2 separate regions of the Homo sapiens genome follow, and region 2 is linked to region 1. A link means that fine-mapping ties the variant in region 1 to the expression of a gene that starts in the linked region. Tissue or cell type: whole blood. Region 1 holds a variant in brackets; the other region holds the start of a gene. All regions are shown on one strand. Distances are between the middles of the regions.

Region 1 (5,220 bases):
TGCTCTCCACCCTAAAGCAGTGGTCCCCAAGCTTTGTGGCACCAGGGACCAGTTTCATGGAAGACAATTTTTCTATGGACCTGGTGGTGGGGGGATGCTTTCAGGATGATTCAAGCACATTATCTTTATTGTGTACTTTATTTCTATTATTATTACATTATAATATAATTATACAAGTCATCTCATGTAGAATCAGTGGGAACTCTGAGCTTGTTTTTCTGCAACTAGAGGGTCCCATCTGAGGGTGATGAGAGACAGTGACAGATCATCAGGCATTAGGTTCTCATAAGGAGCATGCAACTTAGATCCTTCCTGTGCACAGTTCACAATAGGGTTTGTGCTCCCATGAGAATCTAATGCCACCACTACTCTGAGAGGAGAGAGCTCAACTGGTAACATGGGCAATGGGGAACAGCTGGAAATACAGATGAAGCTTTGTTCACTCACCTGTCACTCACCTGCTGTGTGGCCCAGTTCCTTACAGGCAACAGACCAGTACTGGTCCATGACCCGGGGGTTGGGGATCCCCGATCTGATGTCCCCTGCAGTGCTCTGATCAGTGGAACTGGCTTGGTGACAGAGACAGTTGTACAGAGGCACTTAAAAATATCCAAATAGAGAATAAAGCATTTCTCATCACTTGTGGTTAAAAGTGGCTGTTTCCAGGTGATAGGTTGTTTGGCTTGGAAGAGAGTCTGGTACCCAGCCCAGGCCTTCCCGTGGGACCTTCAGGAGAGAGAAGGCCCCATCCCAGAGTGTGCCTCATTGAACAAGGATTTTGAGGAATGGCAGCTGCAGGAGAAGCTCTAAGAAGTCGCCCTTTTGGAAGGGGAATTTACCTCTGTGAAGGAATCTCTACCTGCCGGGTGTCTCCTCTGGGATCCAGGAAGAAGAGGGAAACTCAGTTACAAGAGACACTTGTTGAGGAGAAAGCTCTATTACAAGCCCACAGCAAGTTGTGGCCTTGGTCACCTGCCTTTCTGGTCACCTCCCCGTTGCCGGCCACCCCCATCTTCTTTCTTTATTTTAGTTGAAGATAAGCTAGGGTTCTGGGCCACCTCCTGCAGATTTGTGCGTCTTCCCCTGGAGTTTGCCACCCACGCATGAGGTGTGTGGATTAATAAACTTCTGTTTTTCTCTTGTTCATCTGCCATGGGTTACAGGCGTCCAGTTTTTCTTCTCCTACAGGGAAACAATTTGCTCCACTGGGAAGAGGGGAAAAGGCCACAGAAAGGCAAGTTGACCAGAAGACCCCTCACAGCGTCCCCTTATCATCACCTCCTCTGCCTCTAGGGAAGTCTTGGGGGCTGGTGGTGCATTGGCTAGGTGCAGAGGCAATGGCTACAGGCTGGGACCACTGTGGAAGCCCCCAGACTGAAGCCCCACTGCCTGATCTCATCATCCTTTGCATCACTCTGTGACCTATGACTTTGACCCTCTCTCCTAACTGGCCTGGCCTGGTGGGAGCAGGAGCCACTTATTTAGGTCTAAGGACTGCAAGCTCTAGGGCTTTGCAGATGCAGGCAGATTTGGGGCCTGAGCAGGGGCAGGAATGAACTTGGAACATAACCCTCAGAAGTTCTGAGGTAGTCCTGGCCATGGGGTCCATGCAAGGACTACATCCCGCAGCTTTCCGCTTTCCAGTCTGCCGTCAGTGCCCACACATGGTTCAGGAGGTGGAAATCATGAGATGACACCGTGTCTGTGCACGCGGCTCTGGTTCTGCTCAAGGCTTATAGTATTGCTCATGGAAACAGAGGATGCTGGAAACGAGGGTCTGGTTTTGCAGCAGAACCACAGCATCTGGGGGCGAGTGTGGGGGCTCAGGCCGTGTCCAACCAGCTGGCCCCTGTAGCAGGCCCTCCCTAGCCTCTAGCCTCTGGGGACTTTAGGACCTAATGGAAACTTTTCTTGACACAGCTCTAAGTTGGTCAGCTCAGTCTCTTTCTGCAATTCCCAAATTGCAGTCTGTGTGTAGTGAAAACTACCAGCAAAATAAAAAGCAACGTGTCCTCTACTCATAATTATTTTTTAAAATAAAATTTCAGAAACTGATTATTGAAATTTTATAAGCTGCATCTGCTTCAAATTCCAGTTAAGCCCAGTAGCCCTGCTCTGTTTTACACATCAACACCCAAATTATTTGTTGCTATTTAAAACGTAACTTTCTACATATTTTTAAGGCTTTACTTGTAAATTTTATTGCACTTGTATATGTAAAATTCTTAAACGGCTAAGAGCAGGTACTACACTTGGTCTTGGCCAAAAGGGCAAGAATCACTGCTTGCAAAGCTTTTAAGAGCCAGCATTACTGCCTGGTTTGTGGTGAAAGCGGCTTCCTTATTCCACCCTCGGTCCTTGCGGCTGTCACTCTGTCTCTTGGTGTTTGCCTCCTGTGAAAGAACATGCTTGTGTCTCATGTTTATTTTGGGGCTCATCTATTGATTTCCTTCAATGATGGGGGAGGAGCTAACCTTTCTGCTAAGCACATGCATGCACCCACAATCTCTGCACCCCCTTCTCCTCCAATGCGATAGCCACACTCTGTGGCGACCTCAGTATTCCAGGTTGCCATCCTGTGATCACGCAGAGCTTATTCTCAGCTGAGCTGTGTAA[T/C]TGTAAAATGATTAAGTTTCCCTTCATGCACTCCGTTTCCTCTGGGGTTAGAAGCTGTTGCATTTTAGTTGTTATTTCCTTAGACTTCTAGGAAGGGACCACTGTTCTAGCCACATACTTCCTAACGGAAATAAGAAAGACCCTTGGACGATCAGGCACATCGAAGGTCCAGCCATGGCGTCCCTGAGGCCCCCACTGCCTCAGCTCCTAAGGCTCTGGCCACATTTCCCTGTGTCTCCCTGCTCCTCACCTTCAGGGCTGCCTGAGTTACCCTGTGTGGAAGGAACCCTTTGAGACCTGCAATGTCTGGAGACGTCGCCATTCTCTCCTTGACCTTTTCTTTCTGGGACCAGGATTCTAGGCTGCAAGAAATGTCTCTCAGAACTGAGAAGGCTTCACTTCCCGCCCTGCAGACTCCAGCGTTCTGTAGGGAGGTCTCAGCCATTCCAGTTCTGCCACGAGAGTGCTGGGGCCTGTGGCTCTGGCCCCTGGGCTGCTGGTGAGCTCTGCCTGAAGTGTCTCAGCAATGAGGATGTGGATGACACAGGTGTTTTTACTCTGTTCTTTCATGCATGCGCTACTCTCTCAATCTGGGCTCCTGTCTGCAGTTCTGGACCACTTGTTTGAGTTATTTCTTTGCTGGTCTCTCCTGTCTGACCTCTCTGGTCTCTCTTCTCATTAAGTGGGTATTGGAATTTCTGGGTTGATTCTCTATTTCTTTTTTCATTCCTCCCTAATTCTTCATCTGTGCATCTTTTTATTCTGTTTCTGTGAGATGTAAATGAGTCTAATATTCAACATTTCTATTAAATTATTTATGTCTATTCTACTTTTAATTGAAAGATTCTGTGTGTAGTTTTGCGGTGTCTGCTCTTATTTCACGGCCACCCTGTTTCTCTGCGAATATCATAGGTTTGTCTGCGTCCTACTCCCTCCATCCACTCGGCTTCCTCCAGGTTTCTCTCTGGGTCTGTGTCATGTTAGGGTCTCCCTGGGTCTCTGGCCTGCATCCTCCACACAGACCCCCCACCCCAACCCACTCACATGCAGGAAGCAGCCACATGTGCTTCCAATGGGAGTGGATGGTGTGTGGGGAGGAGATGCAGCCGGGCTCTTTCCCATAGAGGTTTCCTCCAGTCATCTGCATCCCTCTCCTGAAGGCCTTGCTGGGCATCCCTGCTGTCCTGTGGCCTTCCTGGGTTCCACTAACTGCTCAGGCATGTCCTTCAAGACTGGAGTTTGTGCTGGTGGCAGGGCACTGCAGCTCTCCCATGGTATTCCAAGACTGCCTGCACGTTTGCCATTAGTTCTTTTTTGATTATTGCTTTTCAATAGCAGTTCCTTAATTAAACTTTTCTCGATTTACCAAGCTTGAGCGTGTCATGGATTTCCTGCTGGGACCCTGGCTGATAACAGCTCTGCAGCCAAGTGCCCAACAGCTCTGCAGCCAAGGCCCAACAGCTGTAGGAGGCGTATGGGGGCTTGCTTACGAGTGGCCCTCACCTCACAGCAGTGGAGATGGCCCAGTTCTTCCACTGGGGACTCCTAAGTCCAAAGACTGCATTTGTAGATTTTCCCTCCACAGCCAAGAGAGAGGTCCTTTAATTCTTTGACCTCCTGCCTGGGGGTATGAGCCTGGCCTTTGACATTCTGGGAGCTTGGAAGGTGGGTGAGGTATCCCACTCTCCACAGGGGGGCTCCACTCACCCCTCTCAGCAAGGTGTCCTCCACCCTCACTGCCCAGCTGCCCCTGCATGCCTGAGGTGCCTCACAATCACCCGGGCTCCTTGACACCCCTGACTTCTGAGGTTTCCTGAGTCTGGCGCAGATCCCCTGGGTGGTAGCTGGGCTTCCCTGTTCCTGCTTTACCTGAGATTGCTCAGTCCTCCCTCCTGGCCGAGTCTTCCTGTCTTCTCCTCTCTGAGCTTTGTTTTTATGCCTTTTCAATCACTTTATTGCCCTTTTGATTGACAGGTGAAGGAGCAAAGATGGGAGGTCTCTGTCTCTCCATCCTTAGCCCTGCTTTGCTTTAGAGCAAAGATATTGTTGGTTAAAAAAAAAAAAAGCCCTTATCCTTGAGTGATGACCCCCCAGTGTTTAGGAGCAGACGTAGAGAGAAGAGCAGCTTGAGTCTGAGCCACCCAAGGGGTGGACAAATGGACTGGGGAAGGCATCAGGAGCTCCTTGCACGAGGTCCTCTTGTTGTTCTTGTTCCTGTCACTCTTGGCTGACGAAGAACCAAGAAGGAGACTTCCATGATGACCCCGGAGAGAACCACAGTGACTGGCAGGAGGCAGGGGAGGTGAACAGGCCCTTCTCACCAGGGACCCTTGCCTGGCCTCACAGGTCCGAGCCTGCTCCCACGACCAGGTCAGCCAGAGGTGTTTACATGAGAGGGAGAGTGAGGAACACCAGTTTCCGAGGTCCCGGCTGACCTTGACGGTGAGCAGAGGAAGGTTCTCAGGGCCTCAGTGGCCCTTGGAGAACCTGCACTCTAGGGCTCATAGGAGGCACCGCTCTCTTGGAGGCCATGGTGGTGATGAAATGCTGCTTCAGGGGCCTTCTCAGCAACCCATGCCAGTGCCAGGCCTGTGTGGAGGAAGA
Region 2 (5,220 bases), 52 kb after region 1:
CCTTAACAATAGCATGACTTAATTATATAAAACTCATAGAGGAGCTAATGAATGAACTGAGTCAAATTCATAGTACTCGGGAAAGTTCTTCTCAAAATTCCAGAAATGCCTGCTGCTCCGTAACAGCCGTTTCACCGGCTTCTCCCACCCAACCCCCTTCCCTCTCATTTGTGCCAGGCCTTTAGGTTGTAGATATCCTGACTAGCTGTGCTCTTCTTCAGAAGAAAGCTAAATGTCTAAAATATTCAGTAAGTTAGCTTTTTTATTTAGCAAGGCTCACCTTCTTCCAGATTGTCATAGATTTGCAGGGGATTACAGTTTAATGACAATTCATGGAGTGGATGTTGCTAGACTGAGAGGAAGCCAGCTGTCTGGGCATAAGCCCTGTGTTCCTTCGCATTAGCCAGGGGGATTTGTGTTATTTGTCCAAGTGTTCTGAGTTGGTTTTCTGTGTTTTATTTGTAGCGTCTTTATATGGGCTGTGTTTGGATCCTGACTTTGTTTTGCAACCTCTGTTTGATAGTTTTTGACTTTCATCAGTTTGTGCTTGCAATGTGCTTATTTTGACAGCACCCCGGAGCCACACCATGCCATCTTGCATTTGCAATTTTCTAAGCCCCCTAGCCCAGGAGGCCAGGCCTATTAGGCCTTGTTTGAAAAGGAGCATATATACATTTTTAACATTCTTATTATTTGCGTGAAGATGAACTCTCAAATTTAGTTTGTACTGGGTGGAGTGGTCCTTAGTAGGCGCCAGTGTTTAATTCTATTTCGTGATGTTTGCGGCCGGTAGGTTTAGCGGTCACCGGGGGAGGGAGGCATGTGGGAGGGGTGCTGCCCTCCTCTCTGGGTGACGGTATAGTTAGGTTAGTATCGTTAGGTTATTATCTGGCTCTTCCCACTCGGCTGGGGGCTCCTGCCAGGCCCAGCCCCCGCCCTCCCTGTGCGTCCCGCGCCAGGGCCCCAGGTCCCCCCAGGCCTTGGGCACGGGCGCCACCCCCTCGGTTCTCCGGGATCCTGGCCGGCATCTCCCAAAGGCAGTTCAGAGCCCCTTTCATCTTAAAAGCTTTGCTGCTCATCACTTCTGGGAAACTCAAAATGTACATTTCATTTTTTTAAGAGTCGTAAAGTTACGAAGCTTGCAGTTTTCAAGGGAGCTCATAGTTCTGGATCCTCCTTCAAAATGCGCTTTTACATGACTGAACACATGAATACATATTTGGTGTAAGAAGCGATACGAAGCGCGTCGCGGGAAAAATTAACCTGCTGGGCGGGAGCGGACGCCTAGAATCCCCCGTTCCCGCGGCTCCGTCCCGGGATCGGGGGTCGCCTCGCCGGCTCCTTTCGGCCTGGGAACCAGGCGGTTCTGCCCTCAGGAATCTGTGGGCGCCTCTCCCGCTCCTGATTCTGACAAAGCCATAGCCACGCGGGAAAACGTTCTCCGGGCCCTGAGCCCCAACCTGGGCGCCGCGGGGGTCCCAAGGGTTCTGCGCGGCCCGGCACCACGGCCCCATCCCCGCCCCCCACCGCCGTCAGTCCGGGCCGAGCCCGCGGCGCCCCAGGCCCCAGCGGCCCCACCGCCCACCAGGGCTGGGCGAGGCTTCCTCCCGGCGCCCCCACTATCCCGCGACCTCGGGCGCCGGAGGGGATGAGTCCCGGATGCCCGGCGCCCAGGCCCCGAGGGATGCCCTGAAGCGCTGGGGTACAGGCGCCGCTCCGCGGACTGTGCCCCCTCCACCTTCCCCTCAGCCTTGCCGCGGCCTGAGCGCCAGCGGCGCGCATGCGCACTGCGCTCCCGGCCGTTGCCTTGGTGACCCGAGCGGACGTGGCCACGCCCTCCGGCCAGGGTCTGGGAAAGGGTGGGGGGAGGGGGCAGTCCGGGAGTAAGTGGGGGTCGGCGGGGGAGAAGGAGAGAACCGGGAGAGGGGAATTTGCGGGGGCCGGGTGGGGGCTCGGGGGTAGAGGAGGACCCAGGGAACCGGGGATAGGGCAGGGCTAGGGGCTCGGTGGGGGCTCAGGATGGGGGCGTTTCCGGGTGAGGAAGCAGCTAGGGGCGGGTAGGTGGGGGTCAAGGTGGGGGGACCAGGTGACGGGGTAGCCTGGGGTGAGGACGTCGTTCAGTAGAACAGTGAAGGGCGAGGGTCTCGCCGGGGCGGTGGCGGGGACCACACTGGGAGGAGGGGGCCGGGGTTGACCTTTCTGTGGGGGATGGGATTCGGAGCCCCGTCGAATTTGGGGGTGGGTCTGGTCCTGGGGAAGGTTTGGGGGCGGGTCTGGTCTTCGGAAGGGTTTGGGGCGGGCCTGGTCCTGAGGAGGGCTTGGAGCGGGCCTGGTTCTGGGGATGGTTTGGGGGCGGGCCGGGTCCTGGGGAGGGTTTGGGGCGGGCCTGGTGGGGAGGGGGCGGGCCTAGTTCTGGGGGTGCCCCGCCCCCGCCTAGCCCCGCCCGGCCCACTGGGCCCGCGTCCCGCAGGAGCCGCAGGCAGAGCGTCCGGCGGCCGGGAGGGACGCGGAGCCACAGCCCGACGCACGGACGGAGGGACGCCGGAGCCCGCCTGACCATGTGGAAGCTGGGCCGGGGCCGAGTGCTGCTGGACGAGCCCCCCGAGGAGGAGGACGGCCTGCGTGGGGGGCCGCCACCGGCCGCCGCCGCCGCCGCCCAGGCGCAGGTGAGGGGGTGCGCAGGTGGGGAGTGCTAGTAGGCCGGGGGCGCGCAGGTGGAGGGCGAGGGTGGGCGGCGCGCAGGTGGAGGTGCGGGTAGTTGGGGGCACAGTTTGGGCGGGCAGGTGAGGTTGGGGCCGCGTAGCTCCGGGGCGCGGCCCGCTAGGTGCCCGAGTGCGGAGTCGGAGAACTTGACCCGAGGCTCGTCCTGGGCTGAGTTGCCGCTGTGGTCCGCGTGGACCCACTCCCCGCTTAACTGGCCAGGGCTGCCGGCGTTCTCGCCGCTTGCAGGGGACCCAGTGCCCCCTGCACGTGTTACTCGGGGCGCAGTCCCAGGAGAGCGGGGACGCAGTGCGCGCACCCCGCGGCGCGGGCGTCGTGGGCCCGGGACGCAGAGGTCCACGCCGGGTGCTCGCGTCCCGGGTGGAGCTGGCGGAGAAGGCCTGAATCATCGCGCATCCGGACGGCCTCCTCGCGGACACTAAGCAGCTTTGGACGACCGTAGCTCAATGTTAAGTGGGCTAAATGTTTGTTTGCATAACAAGTATTTTCTTAAATTCTTGATTTTTCTGAAGGAAGCCGGCAGAAGTCCTTTGTACTGAAAACTGAAAGGCCTTTACCTGACGAGTGTAGAGATATGTTTGGTATGTCTAGAATTTTGTAATTGAAAGGGCTCCCAGGTGGGCCCTGTGTGCCTTAGACGTGCCCTCCCCCACCCCCTCCCCCCCCCTCCCTTTTTCCATTGCAGTGCTCTTTTTCATGTACAATGAAATTTAGGTCAGAAATCCAGCATTCTGGATCATAAAATATCTCTTTCTGTTAAACGTGTGGCAACTTCCTCCTGATGCTGTTAAGGCCGAATGGAATATAAGGATTTGTACCTGTCTTCCGAGGACTTGGAAATAGTTTCTGAGCAGAAGAGTTTCTCTTAGGGTCTGGAGTTGTTTCTTCTTGATAGAGATTTTCTATGAACGTTAAATTCCATTCCTAACTCATGGAAAATGGAGCCGATTATGTTAAGCGCTTAAATATGGTTACTATCTGAACTTGTCTGAGAAATTTCTTTTAGGTAGCGTTAGTGCTTACGTGCCTTTTTTTTTTTTAATTTCAGAATGTTATAGTTACTCTAAACAGCTCTCTTCTTGAATGTAATGATGAGAATTTATATGTGGCTACAGAGTTAACTGCAGAAGCTACAAATAACTAATATTGGTCAAAGATGAGCCATATTATTGTTTCTGGATAGAGCCTTGAGAATTTTAAACTGAGTCTTCCTATGTTCTCCCATTTTTCCTAATGAATCCTGAAACCCACTTTTTTTTCTTAAGTTTTTATTTTTTATTTTGAGACAGGGTCTTGCCCCGTTTACTAGGCTGGAGTGCAGTGGCGCAATCTCGGCTCACTACGGCCTCAACCTGCCTGGGCTCAAGCTATTCTCCTCTCTCAGCCTCTGTAGTAGCTGGGACTACAAGTGCGCACCACCTCACCTGGCTAATTTTAAAAAACCGTTTTTGTGGAAATGGGGTCTTGCTATGTTGTCCAGGCAGATCTGAAACTCCTGGGCTCACGTGATCCGCCCGCCTCAGCCTCCCAAGGTACTAGGATCACAGGCGTGAGTCACCACGCCTGGCCTTAAGTTCTTACTTTGAAAAATTTCTAACATGCGGAAAAGTAGAAGAATAGGAGATTCTTCCTCGTATCCTCCAGCTAGATTCAATTGCTGGCAGTGCCTTCGTTAAAGCTCCTTTTCTGATTTTCCCTTTACACAATTGTCATCTATACTTTTTTTTTTTTTTTTTTGAGATGAAGTTTCGCTCTTGTCGCCCAGGGTGGGGTGCAGTGGCGTGATCTCAGCTCACTGCACCCTCCCGGGTTCAAGTGATTCTCCTGCCTCAGCCTCTTGAGTAGCTGGGATTACGAGCATGTGTCACCACGCCTGGCTAATTTTGTATTTTTAGTAGAGACAGAGTTGTCCATGTTGGTCAGGCTGGTCTCGAACTCATGATCTCAGGTGATCTGCCCTCCTCGGCCTTCTGAAGTGCTGGGATTACAGGCGTGAGCCACCGCGCCTGGCCTGTTATCTGTACATCTAAAGTGTGTGTTGGTTTTGGGGGGAAAAAACTTTAATAGACTCTATTTTTCAGGTATCCAGTTTTAGGTGCCCAGCAAATTTGAGGAGAAAGTACAGAGAGTTCTCATGGATCCCCAGCCCCCCACTATCATCACCCCCACAGAATGGTGCGTTTGTTACAATCTGTGGACCTACACGGGCTCATGGTCCTCACCTGGGAGGGCTCACTCGTTGTGCATTCTGTGGTTTGGACAAATGTGTACTGACGTTTGCCCACCATTGTAGTGTCACACACAGGAGTTTTGCTGCCTTAGAGACCCTCTGTGCACCCTCCCTCCCCGGAACCCCTGGCAAACATTGATCTTTGTACTGTCGCCATAGTTTTCCAGAATGTCATTTGGTTGCATTCACAGTGTGTAGCTTTTTCAGGTAGGTTTCTCTCACTTAGAAAGATGCATTTAAGGTTCCTGCATTTCTTTTCACGGCTTGTA

Evidence for each region. PIP is the estimated chance that this variant, and not a neighbour inherited with it, causes the effect.
Region 2: TDRP starts here. The variant in region 1 is fine-mapped to the expression of TDRP in whole blood (TOPMed, PIP 0.92).

Annotation. Positions count from the first base shown.
Region 1 is chr8:594,100-599,319 of GRCh38, reverse strand. No RefSeq gene overlaps it. Among named protein-coding and RNA genes, the nearest start is that of TDRP, 52 kb to the right of the region's middle. The variant T/C (reference allele first, on the strand shown) is at 2,617.
Region 2 is chr8:542,096-547,315 of GRCh38, reverse strand. TDRP (testis development related protein) reads left to right here and starts at 2,482. Exons shown (of 3, transcript NM_001384899.1): 1 at 2,482-2,666. The coding sequence starts at 2,559. RefSeq lists an enhancer at 1,003-1,503.